3 linked regions of the Homo sapiens genome follow. The protein of the gene in region 1 purifies or fractionates together with the protein of each later gene. This does not show direct contact. Each region holds a gene or a part of one and is shown in the gene's direction. Other genes may lie near its edges.

Region 1 (3,750 bases):
AAGCTCCCTGTCTCCCTTTATACATGTACCTTACCAGAATCATATTTTTTTCCTGATTCCATGTCCACAGAGTCAGAAATCAGCATTTTGCTGACACAAGCTAAGGAACGCCAGTGTGACCTGTTAGGCGCCTCACATCTCTTTCTGTGGCATAGTCAGGGTCTATGTTTTCCTTTTCTTCAATTAAAATTGCCAGTGACTCATTTTCCTCTTTATGGACACAACCAACTCCCATATTTCTTAAGCAGATTTATTGTTTATGCTTTGAGCCCCACATCCATGGGGTTTCTAATATGGCCCACCCAATGTTATTTTTCCTCTCTATGGGCCTCAGCCTGATGGGGGTATCCCAGGTGTCTGGGGCATGCTGAGACGGCACAGGTCTGTGTGGCTTCCCGGATTACTCGGAATCCTTCATTATCTATTCTACAGCAAGTGGCCCTCGGCAGCTCAGGCTCAGGGAATTTCAAATGTATCACCTCCACCGGCTGGACAAGTCCTCTCAAGACAGGCTCTGGGGCCAAGGGAGGATGTTGTGACTGGTGCTAGCAACATTGTCATGATGGAAGGTGGCCTGGCTTCCGGGACATGACAGGCCATGGGTGAAGTGTGGGTTCAGAGTCACAGAAGAATCACGAAGAAGACATTCTTATGCACCTGACACCTGACTTGGGAGCAGGTTCTTTGCCTACATCCAGTTAGTCTCTACCACAATTCAAGTGGAGTCTTTCTCCCCATTCTCATATTACAGGTGAAGAAACCCAGCTTAGGGAGATGAGGTAACTCTCCCAGAGTCCCCAGCGAAGGACTTGAGCCAGGACAGTTGGATCCTAAGTCTCCTGCTTCCCCTCCCTCAGCACGCTACTCCTCACAGAACAACGCTTTATTTAGTTTTGGACATTTTAACCTTTATTTTGGAATAATTTCAGACTTACACAAAGGCTGCAAAAATAGCATAAAGCATTCTCGTATACCCTTCATTCCACTTCCCCAAATGTTAACATATTATACAATCACAGTACAACGGTGAAAACTAGAATATCAACATTCACACAATACTATTAACTAATCTGCAGATTTTATTCACATTTCATCAACTATTCCACTAATGTTTTTTTCTGGTAGGATTCCATTTAAGGTGTTTTTTTTTGTTTGTTTTTTGTTTTTTTTCTGAGACACAGTCTCGCTCTGTCACCTAGGCTGGAGTGCAGCGGCACCCTCCCGGCTCACTTCAGCCTCCACCTCCTGGGTTCAAGTGATTCTCCTGCCTCAGCCTCCCAAGTAACTGGGACTACAGGTACACACCACCACACCCAGCTAATTTTGTATTTTTAGTAGAGATGGGGTTTCACCATGTTGGCCAGGCTGGTCTCGAACTCCTGATCTCTGGTGATTCACCCACCTCAGCCTCCCAAAGTGCTGGGATTACAGGCGTGAGCCACCGCGCCCAGCCAGCAAATGTTTTTAAAATAGGGCATTCATGGGCTTTTGGGGGTAAGTGACACCTAATCTTCAGGGGTCTGCGGATAATTTCTAAATGGGGCTCACAGTTTATTCCTCCCTCATAGGGAGGCTGCAATTACCTCACAAAGCTCCACTAGGGTCACAACAAGATAGCAAAAGCCAGTGCAGGGCCTGCAGGTATAGGGGGATCCTGCAAGCAGAAATCTGTGGTGGGCGGGCGGCAGGTGAGCAAGGAGAACGTGTCTGTAAAGGAAGCACAGGGAACAGGTGGTGGCTTTGTAAGACAGTTGGAACCCAAGGAAGGTAAGAATAATGTACCACTCCTTGCTCCATATGACTGCTTCCTTATATCTCAGTTCAGATATTACCTTCTCCGTAAGGCCGCCTCCCTTCCTGTAAGTGATGCTTCTCTATCTACAACCCCAGCTCTTATTGCAGAGCACTGTAGGGGCTGTTCTGGGGCTTTTCTTCCCTGAGACATGTGAAGGCAGGGAGAGGGGCTTGCACGCCTTAGCAGGTGTTTAAAAATTTTGCTTGCCTGGATCACCAAAGAACTGAATGGGTGGTGTAAATGGGTAGAAAATGAACTGGCTGGAAACTGAGTGACAAGGTTCAGGTCTGAATCTCTGTTTAAATGCAGGCAGGCCATCCCCCAGGAAAGCCTATGTTGGTGAGGGTTATGATGGGAGAATGAGTGAACTGCAGCCTGGCACCACCACACCCTGGAAGGTGCAGTTGGGAAGAAAGTTTCTGAGGCTGTAGACATGGGGATCGGATGCTGGAGAAACCCCCTGCTGCTGCTGATTGCCCTGGTCCTGTCAGCCAAGCTGGGTCACTTCCAAAGGTGGGAGGGCTTCCAGCAGAAGCTCATGAGCAAGAAGAACATGAATTCAACACTCAACTTCTTCATTCAATCCTACAACAATGCCAGCAACGACACCTACTTATATCGAGTCCAGAGGCTAATTCGAAGTCAGATGCAGGTTTGTACCTTGCTCTCCCAAGACATCAGCAGGCCCTGTTCTTGCCAGTTCAGACATGTGAGGATTCTGGGGTAGCTCCCAAGAGAACCAAGTGGTGGTCCTCCGTGAGGTCCCAAGGGGGAAGCATCTTCACTTGTAGCAGGTACATTGTAGAGTTGTTCAGATCCCAGAATGTCCTTAGCCATGCTTCCAAAATGCTTTCCTAAGGACTGGCATGAACTCTAACTCCAATACACTTAGAGGCAAAAGTGTTCACTGAGGATTAAACTCTTTTTTTTTTTTTTTTTGAGATGGAGTTTCGCTCTTGTTGCCCACGCTGGAGTGCAATGGCATGATCTTGGCTCACTGCAACCTCCTCCTCCCAGGTTCAAGTGATTCTCCTGCCTCAGCCTCCCAAGTAGCTGAGATTACAGGTACGTACCACCACACCTGGCTAAATTTTTTGTATTTTTAGTAGAAACCGGTTTTCACCATGTTAGCCAAGCTGGTCTCGAACTCCTGACCTCAGGTGATCTGCCCACCTCGGCCTCCCAAAGTGCCGGAGTTACAGGCGTGAGATACCACGCCCGGCCAGCTCTTTTTCCTTGGGAAGAAATGCCTTTCATTCTGATATTTGACCCTGCCGGAGTGACAGCAAGGATAATTTTGCTCCCTTTAAAGTTCTCATTTGGCAAAATACAAATATTCTCTGTAGGCCTGTAGCCCCCAATATTTTTTCAATGTGTAGGGTTGTAAAATTCAAAACTGGGTGTTCTGTGTTATACAAACTTCAAATTATACAGAGGGTTTATTCTGGAAGTGGAGAGGATGTGAGAGATAGGGTTCAGCCAGATCACCTCACCTTCTGTTTTACATATAAAATTTCTCTGAAATATATCAATTGAAGGATAATAGAAGAAAGAAAAGTTGTTAGGGAACCCCTTTTATTGGTACAACATTTCCTCAAGGTCAGATAATAAACTATACAGTCCCCTTGGTGTCCATGAGGAATTGGTTCCAGGACCCCTCAGGATGCCCACATCCATGGATTCTGAAGTCTTTTATGTAAAATGGAATAGTGTTTCCACATAACCTATGCACATCTTCCCACATATGGTAAATCATTTCTAGATTAATTATAATAAGTGGTACAGTGTAAATGCTATGTAGATAATTATTATACTGTACTGTTTAGGGAATAATTACAAGAAAAAATGTTCAGTATACAGGCAACCATACATTTTTTTTTCCTGAATATTTTGATGCACGGTTGTTTGCATCCACAGATATGGAGCTCGTAAGTACAGAGGGCTGACTGTAGAAG
Region 2 (3,650 bases), on another chromosome or scaffold:
CGTGGAGCTGCTGGCCCGGGACTTCGAGAAGAACTATAACATGTACATCTTCCCTGTACACTGGCAGTTCGGCCAGCTGGACCAGCACCCCATTGACGGGTAAGACCCCAGACCCTAGAGTGAACAGAGCTCAAGGCTGGCAGGTGCACTAGCTATGGCCAGAAAGCCTCTCAGCAGCCTATACTGCTCCAAGCCCTGGCATCCACAGTTTGCCTGGGGATTGGAGCAGAAGGATGAGGCATCTGGAGAAAAGATGTGGACCTGGGACAAAGAAACCGATAAGACACTCTCATGCTGAGGTGAAAGTCAGTAGGAGCTCAAAATAGCTCCATAATCCTGCAAGTACTAGGCGTGGATATCTGGATAATGAAGGAGTGTGAATTAAGAAGGAGTACCAGGCTCCAAGGGGTGGCAGGGGACAAGGTTGGGTCAGCCACACGCCCCCTGTCCTTCAGCAGAACATCCAGGGGCAGAGCAGCCACCTGGCACTGTCTAAGCCCCCTCCTAAGGCTCAGCCCCAATAGGGCCCAACTGACCCTGGAAGTTATCCAAAAAAGCCTGTCTATTTTGCAAGCCCCCAGTTTGAGGGCTCTTGTCCCTTGTCCAAACGAGTTATGAGGCCCTGTGCAACTGCACTGCCGAACAGGCAGGCAGCTGGCCAGTTAGCAAATGCTTATGGAGTGTGCATTTTGTGCCCTGCACTATTCTAGGCAGGGGATTGAACAGCAGTCAGAGCTGGCATGGTCCTTGCCCTCATGGACTTATACTCTGTTCATAACCTGTCACTACCTTCTGAACTTCTCTTGTGGTGATGAAGTGAGAGCCCCTGCTCAGCCTCAGATGGAGCAAGCTACACCTGCACCTTCCCAGAGTGGTTTTTTCTTCGTCCTTGGGTTGTGGAAGCAGAGCATCACACAGAGGGGAAAGGAAGGGCTGCCCTACTCACATACTCAGGGAACTTCCTCTCTAGGATGTTCACCCCTCGCTCTTTGTCCAGCCTGTGTGCCTGGAGTCTGCCAACCCTGCCAGTGATCCTGAGGGCTGGGGTCTCCTGGGCTCTGGGAATCTCCCGGCCACTTCTCTCCCAGGCTTTTGCCATGGCTGGGATCCAACTGAGTCACTCATTATGGCAGGGAGGGGAAAAGTCAAAGGGGAACATCTGGAGCTCAGGCAAAGCAATTTGATCCCACTGCAACAGAGGGCCTGGAGGGAGGCTTTCAGATGGGGTGCAAGAACAGCACATCTGGGAAAGGGGTCCAGCTTGGGCAAGGGGACCCGCTTCCTCCTCCTCCCATCCCAGGGCTGTAGGTGACCTTGCCTGCATCCCTGCCCCTCCCTGGGCCTCAGTTTTCCACCAGTACAATGAAGGGGAGGAGAATGTTCCTATCAGTTCAAACATTGTGTGATTTCTTTGGTGAGCTGGGTGGGGCTGCGAGGTCTAGAGGTTAAGAAGACAACTGGAGTCACATTGTTCCCTGGAGATCCTTTGTGGATCTTTAGGGACAAGTAGTTGGGGGCTCTGGGAAACAAAGAAAAAAATTATACACATGCTCTGGAGTCTAAGGCCAGCAGGGAGAATAGGGAGGGAGGACAGTGGGAGAGACATCCAAAGGGCCTCCCTCTCAGACATTACAGGATACACAAGCAAAGCTCTATGAAGATGGTTAGAGCTCCCGTTGACCCTCACTGCCAATCCCAGTCCCTTTCCACATTCCTCCCCAGAAGGCAGCACTGTCACCAGATTGGTGTGTCATTTTTAGACCCTTTACTAGGCATTTATAGATGTATAAATGTGTGTCCATAGACAATATACAGTGCTGTGTCATGCTAGATTTTGATCTACCCATAGCAGAAGTGCTGAATTTTGATTTTAAGTTTCTGTGTCCCCAGTTCTCAGCCAATTAGGAAACAATCAAATACACCAAACAGACCTTTGTTTTTGAGACCCTGAAACCTTAGAGCTGGAAGGGCCGTTAGTAATTATGGCCATCTCCTCCTCTTTGCTGGAAGGAGAAACTGAGGTTCCGAATGGTGCACTGCTGTTCTCTGAGTCTCAGAGCAGTCAGTGGCAGAGCTAGGGGTAGACCTGGGATTCTGGCTTTTTGTCCTGCTTTAAATATCCTTTCCTCCATGCTCTGGGGCAGGCTAACTCCCCGGTTGCCTCCCAAGGCTGGGTGTGGAGCTTTTCCATGCCTCAGGCCCTCCCCTGCCTCCTTCCCTGCAGGTACCTCTCCCACACCGAGCTGGCTCCACTGCGTGCTCCCCTCATCCCCATGGAGCATTGCACCACCCGCTTTTTCGAGACCTGTGACCTGGACAATGACAAGTACATCGCCCTGGATGAGTGGGCCGGCTGCTTCGGCATCAAGCAGAGTGAGTGTCTGAACAAAGAAGCAAGGGGCATGGGCAGAAACACTGCTCCCAGGGTGCTGGGTTGTCATCCCCCCACTCTCCGCTCTCTTGGTCTGTCTGTTGTCTGTCCTCTCTGCCTGTCTCTGCTCTCTCTGCCTATTTGACTCCTGTCTCTTGGGCGTCTTCCTGATCCTTCTCTGTCCATCCAACTGTCCCTCTCTCTTTCCCTTCCTCAAGCGTTAGCACTCACCCGTGCTAAACACTATTTTGGGAACTGGCAGGCACACAGAGAGGAAACAGGAAGTGTAACTTGGCAGCGTGTGTAAGAGACAGGGACAGGCCAGAGACAGAGAGAGCGAGATTCCTCCGTCACTGACTTCCTGGGTGACCTTGCATGGCCACCTAGACCCCTGCCCCTGGGGATGGGTGGGAGTCCACTGACTCCTTGGGAAGTGCGTTATCATCGACACAGCCTTATTTTTAACCGTGCTCTTTTCTTGCTTTGCAGAGGATATCGACAAGGATCTTGTGATCTAAATCCACTCCTTCCACAGTACCGGATTCTCTCTTTAACCCTCCCCTTCGTGTTTCCCCCAATGTTTAAAATGTTTGGATGGTTTGTTGTTCTGCCTGGAGACAAGGTGCTAACATAGATTTAAGTGAATACATTAACGGTGCTAAAAATGAAAATTCTAACCCAAGACATGACATTCTTAGCTGTAACTTAACTATTAAGGCCTTTTCCACACGCATTAATAGTCCCATTTTTCTCTTGCCATTTGTAGCTTTGCCCATTGTCTTATTGGCACATGGGTGGACACGGATCTGCTGGGCTCTGCCTTAAACACACATTGCAGCTTCAACTTTTCTCTTTAGTGTTCTGTTTGAAACTAATACTTACCGAGTCAGACTTTGTGTTCATTTCATTTCAGGGTCTTGGCTGCCTGTGGGCTTCCCCAGGTGGCCTGGAGGTGGGCAAAGGGAAGTAACAGACACACGATGTTGTCAAGGATGGTTTTGGGACTAGAGGCTCAGTGGTGGGAGAGATCCCTGCAGAACCCACCAACCAGAACGTGGTTTGCCTGAGGCTGTAACTGAGAGAAAGATTCTGGGGCTGTGTTATGAAAATATAGACATTCTCACATAAGCCCAGTTCATCACCATTTCCTCCTTTACCTTTCAGTGCAGTTTCTTTTCACATTAGGCTGTTGGTTCAAACTTTTGGGAGCACGGACTGTCAGTTCTCTGGGAAGTGGTCAGCGCATCCTGCAGGGCTTCTCCTCCTCTGTCTTTTGGAG
Region 3 (3,650 bases), on another chromosome or scaffold:
CCGGCGACGAGAACCAATTCTGGGAAGGAGCAAGATGGGGCAGAAGGTGCGCGCGGGGGAGCAACTGAGCAAATAACACGGCGGTCGCGGCGCGCGGCACCTTGGGCTGGCGCGTGGCTGGGAGGCCGCATGGGCGACGCGCACCAGGCTGCCCCTCTCCTCACTGCGCCGCCTCGCCAGACCGCAGTGCAGCCGCTAGCCTGCCTCCCTCCCTGCCCCGGGCGCCCCCGCCAGTCCCCTGCGCTCCGCTCTGCGCGGCAGGCTCGCCGCGACCCCTAGAGAGACGGCTTTGAGTGGCGGGAGGCCGAGGCCGGCTGGCTTGGGAATCCAAGCGCTGGCCCAACTAGGTGAGAGGAAACTGGGGTGGGATTTCGGAGAGGAGGGCGGAGAGAGGCGGGAAGGAACCAGCTTGAGCCCCAGGAATGCGCGCAACTTGCACAGCCTCTAGAAGCGCCGCGCGCCCAGCGCCCGCCGGTGCGCAGGAACAGGTGAAGAGCACGCGGCGTGCGGCCATCCACGTGGTGGGGACGTGATAGCCCCTCAGCTCTCCTCCTAGCCCTCCCTCCCCTTCCCCGCCCCCCAGCGCCTTCTCTAACGCCGCATCGATTTGTTTGGGCTACGCAGCAGAAACAGAGCCCAGCGATCCATAAACATTCTATTAAGCAAAAATATTCCCAGCGAAAGCAAAACCGAGGCTGAAGCCTCCGCGAAGTTGGCCGCCTCCAACTACTCCATGCTTGTGCCCTCCTCCTCCTCCTCCTCCTAAGGACACCCCCAGGGAAAAGCCTGCGGCATTTCTTCAACGCTGCCCTATGCCGGAAAGTTAGGTCTCGGCTGCAGCGCTGGTCTCTGGAGAAGCCTCTGCCTGCAGCCGCCGGCGAGTTCCCGCCTCCCCTCCCCAGCCGCCTCGCTCTTTGCTTTTCCACGTGAGAAAAAGAAATGTTCACGGCCGATGCTTCATTTTCACTGATTGATTTCTTTTTAATATCAACACAAGTTAATGGAGGCAAGGCGCGCTCTGATTGAAGGGCTGCCCCCGCCCTTCGACTCGGGCTGGCTGTGCCGGGGGTCTTTCCCACCGGGTCGCAGGCGTCCAGCGGCTGGGTGGCGGGCGCCGGTAGCCCTAGTGTTTGGAGGTGGGGGAGGGATTTGGAATAGACTTGTCGCCCCTCTGGGAATCATCTGGGTTGGGGAACCTTCGGGAATCAGCTTTCCAGACCAAGTTTTAGGGGATCTTGCCCATATGCGTTGCGGCTTCTGCGGCTCCGGCTGAATTTCTTCTAAAAGATAGGAGATCCACGCTCAGGTTTATTGGCGTGTGCTCCCTGCTCGGCTCCCCTCCCTCCACTTCCTGTTCTTTCGGTTTCAGACAGAGAGGAGAGCCCCCTGGCGCTAGCCATTCCCGATCAGCGCCCACTACGAACGTCCCCTTTGCTAGAGTTAATCATGATCTGCGGGGGGACTGGGTTTTGCTCAGAAAATCATTCAAGTCCTGACAATGGGTTTCTTCAAATGGTGGCAACTCCCAGGCCTAATGTCCCCACCTCCGGGACACATCGCTTGGGGCCAAAAGAACCCAGACCCCATAACCATCTACCCCTCCCCTCCTCGTCTGGAGAGCTTTGATCTATGCTTGGGTTTTAACGCCATTGCCATGGACACGCGCAGATTCTCGGTCAATTCACCCTTCCGTCTGGACTGGATGATCAGATAAGAGGTGTAAATTGGCTGTGGGAGACAGGTCTGGGTTCAGACAAATCCTGAAAGAGAAGCAATGACGGTCTAGGCGCCGGATAAGGGTTTGAAGTGTTTCTTTTAGCCTGTCTCCCCAAAATGTGAGATGGCCATTGGCGAGCATAATAATTTGCAAGTAAACTGTAAACTCCTAGATTTTACGCAGACGGCCTGCTCTGGGCTCTAGGGATTGGTCTCATGCCCACATTAAATGGGTACCCAGTAAACATTTTTCCCCCGTGATCAGCTCCTGGAGGTAGGGAAGCTGTGGCCAGTTGCCAGCAGAGCACACAGTGCAAGACAGTGGCAAGAGGAGCACTCCCCAAAGGGCCCCGGGCAGGCCCCTACTCGTCCAAGCGGTGCCTGGTGGAATTGTGAATGCGCCAGTGCACATCAGGTTTGGAGTTTTATGTCATCCCATAGAGCCCTCAGACATTAAGCTACGGAGCACTCAACTGGCAAAATGAAAGATTGGAAGGCTGCAGTGACTGGAACCCAGGCTACCCAGACAGGACTCCTGCTGTCTACCAAATGGCTCTGATCCCCTGCTGTTGAATGTATCAAGTCCACGTTCTGCAGCAGAAAGGCCAGTTCCTATCTTCCAGGCATAGAAAAAGCTAGGAATCCAAATGCCAATTCATATGCAGTGAGGCACGAATACAAATGACAGTGAGGGAGGGGTCTGGGGTCAGTGAGGAGAGACACCAGGGACCAGATGATTCTGGGGACCCTGGTGTTTTTCATTTCACTCAAGTCTTCCCTAAAGCAATCAGGAAAATGAACTGACTCAGGATGACCTGAGTGTAAGACAATTCTGAGTTGACAGAATTCAAGAGCCAGGTAAAGAGGTTTCCAAATATATTCTCCAAAGGTCCAGTTTGGAAAGACTTTAGGAACTTGAGCTGAGATCTTCCTTTCTTAAAAGATAGAGCAAAAGAAGAATATCTTTTTAATTTCTTGAACTGACAAGAAAGGACTTGAAAAGTGTCATCTGGGCAATGGCTTGTAGTGTTATTAACATATTTGAGGTATTTTATTATCTGACCATCACTTGCAACTGGATAATCTTTGAGATACCTTCCTTGAGTGGCAGATAAGTATATTGATCACCAGAAGTTAGTCTTTGTACTGTTCCTTCCAGGTAAGGACTTGGCTGTTTGCTGATTTTTGTTTTTTAATTAACCCATTTCTGGAAGATGCTGCAGAAGTTTGTCCTGGAGAGCTACAGTATTTTTCAAAGCTTTATCTGCCTTGATGAGAAATGGTCAGAGGCTTAATGGTTTCATTGCCTAACAGGATTCAGTGGAGTAGGATTCCAGGACACAGTGGCCTTGTATCATGGCTGGCCCTCCAGGAGAAAGCATCTTCTAAAGGTTTAGGAAGCTGTCAAGTTTAGATAAGGCTGAGCTCCGATCCTCTGGGACCTTGGTTGTATTAATAAGGAGAAATTAATTTTTAACCACTGGGAACATTGCCAAATTATGTGACCTTTGGCAGACCAGCTGTGCTATAAAAATAAATCCCCCATTTCTGAAAATGCTACTCCTATCCAGTAGAACAATAACAATGTGGCATTTAGGATAGAGAAGAGTAGGATTGAGAAGAAAGGAGAGAAATAGGAGTTGGCAAAAAACAAAAAAACAAAACAAAACAAAAAAAACAAAAAAACCCTTCGATGTTGTGATACATGGTTTCAGACCTGAACTTCCTATCCATCACCCGCCCTCCCCGGCCCCATGCCTAGGGTTTCCAGAACACAGGAAAGAGGGCCAGGATGACAAGGAGCTGAGTGCCTGTGTGTACAGGGAGTGGAGAAGGTGTTAAGTGCTTCCAGCCCACTCACACCCCAGCCTCAAACACATCTCTCATTGTTCACACAGACAGAGTACTGGCACAGGCAGAGAAAAGGGGGTTTT

What was found.
Region 2: the proteins of CSTL1 (region 1) and SPARC purify together in Homo sapiens (affinity purification with mass spectrometry; one large-scale study listed by BioGRID and IntAct). This does not show direct contact.
Region 3: the proteins of CSTL1 (region 1) and NRP2 purify together in Homo sapiens (affinity purification with mass spectrometry; one large-scale study listed by BioGRID and IntAct). This does not show direct contact.

The regions. Positions count from the first base shown.
Region 1 is NC_000020.11:23,438,040-23,441,789, forward strand, and holds the start of CSTL1 (cystatin-like 1 precursor), read left to right. Parts: upstream 1-1,645; 5' UTR 1,646-1,767; intron 1,768-2,104; 5' UTR 2,105-2,228; coding exon 2,229-2,447; intron 2,448-2,737; exon of another isoform or gene 2,738-2,860; intron 2,861-3,750.
Region 2 is NC_000005.10:151,662,810-151,666,459, reverse strand, and holds part of SPARC (SPARC isoform 1 precursor), read left to right. Parts: coding exon 1-99; intron 100-2,224; coding exon 2,225-2,373; intron 2,374-2,860; coding exon 2,861-2,889; coding exon of another isoform or gene 2,890-3,005; 3' UTR 3,006-3,650.
Region 3 is NC_000002.12:205,685,476-205,689,125, forward strand, and holds part of NRP2 (neuropilin-2 isoform 2 precursor), read left to right. Parts: intron 1-3,650.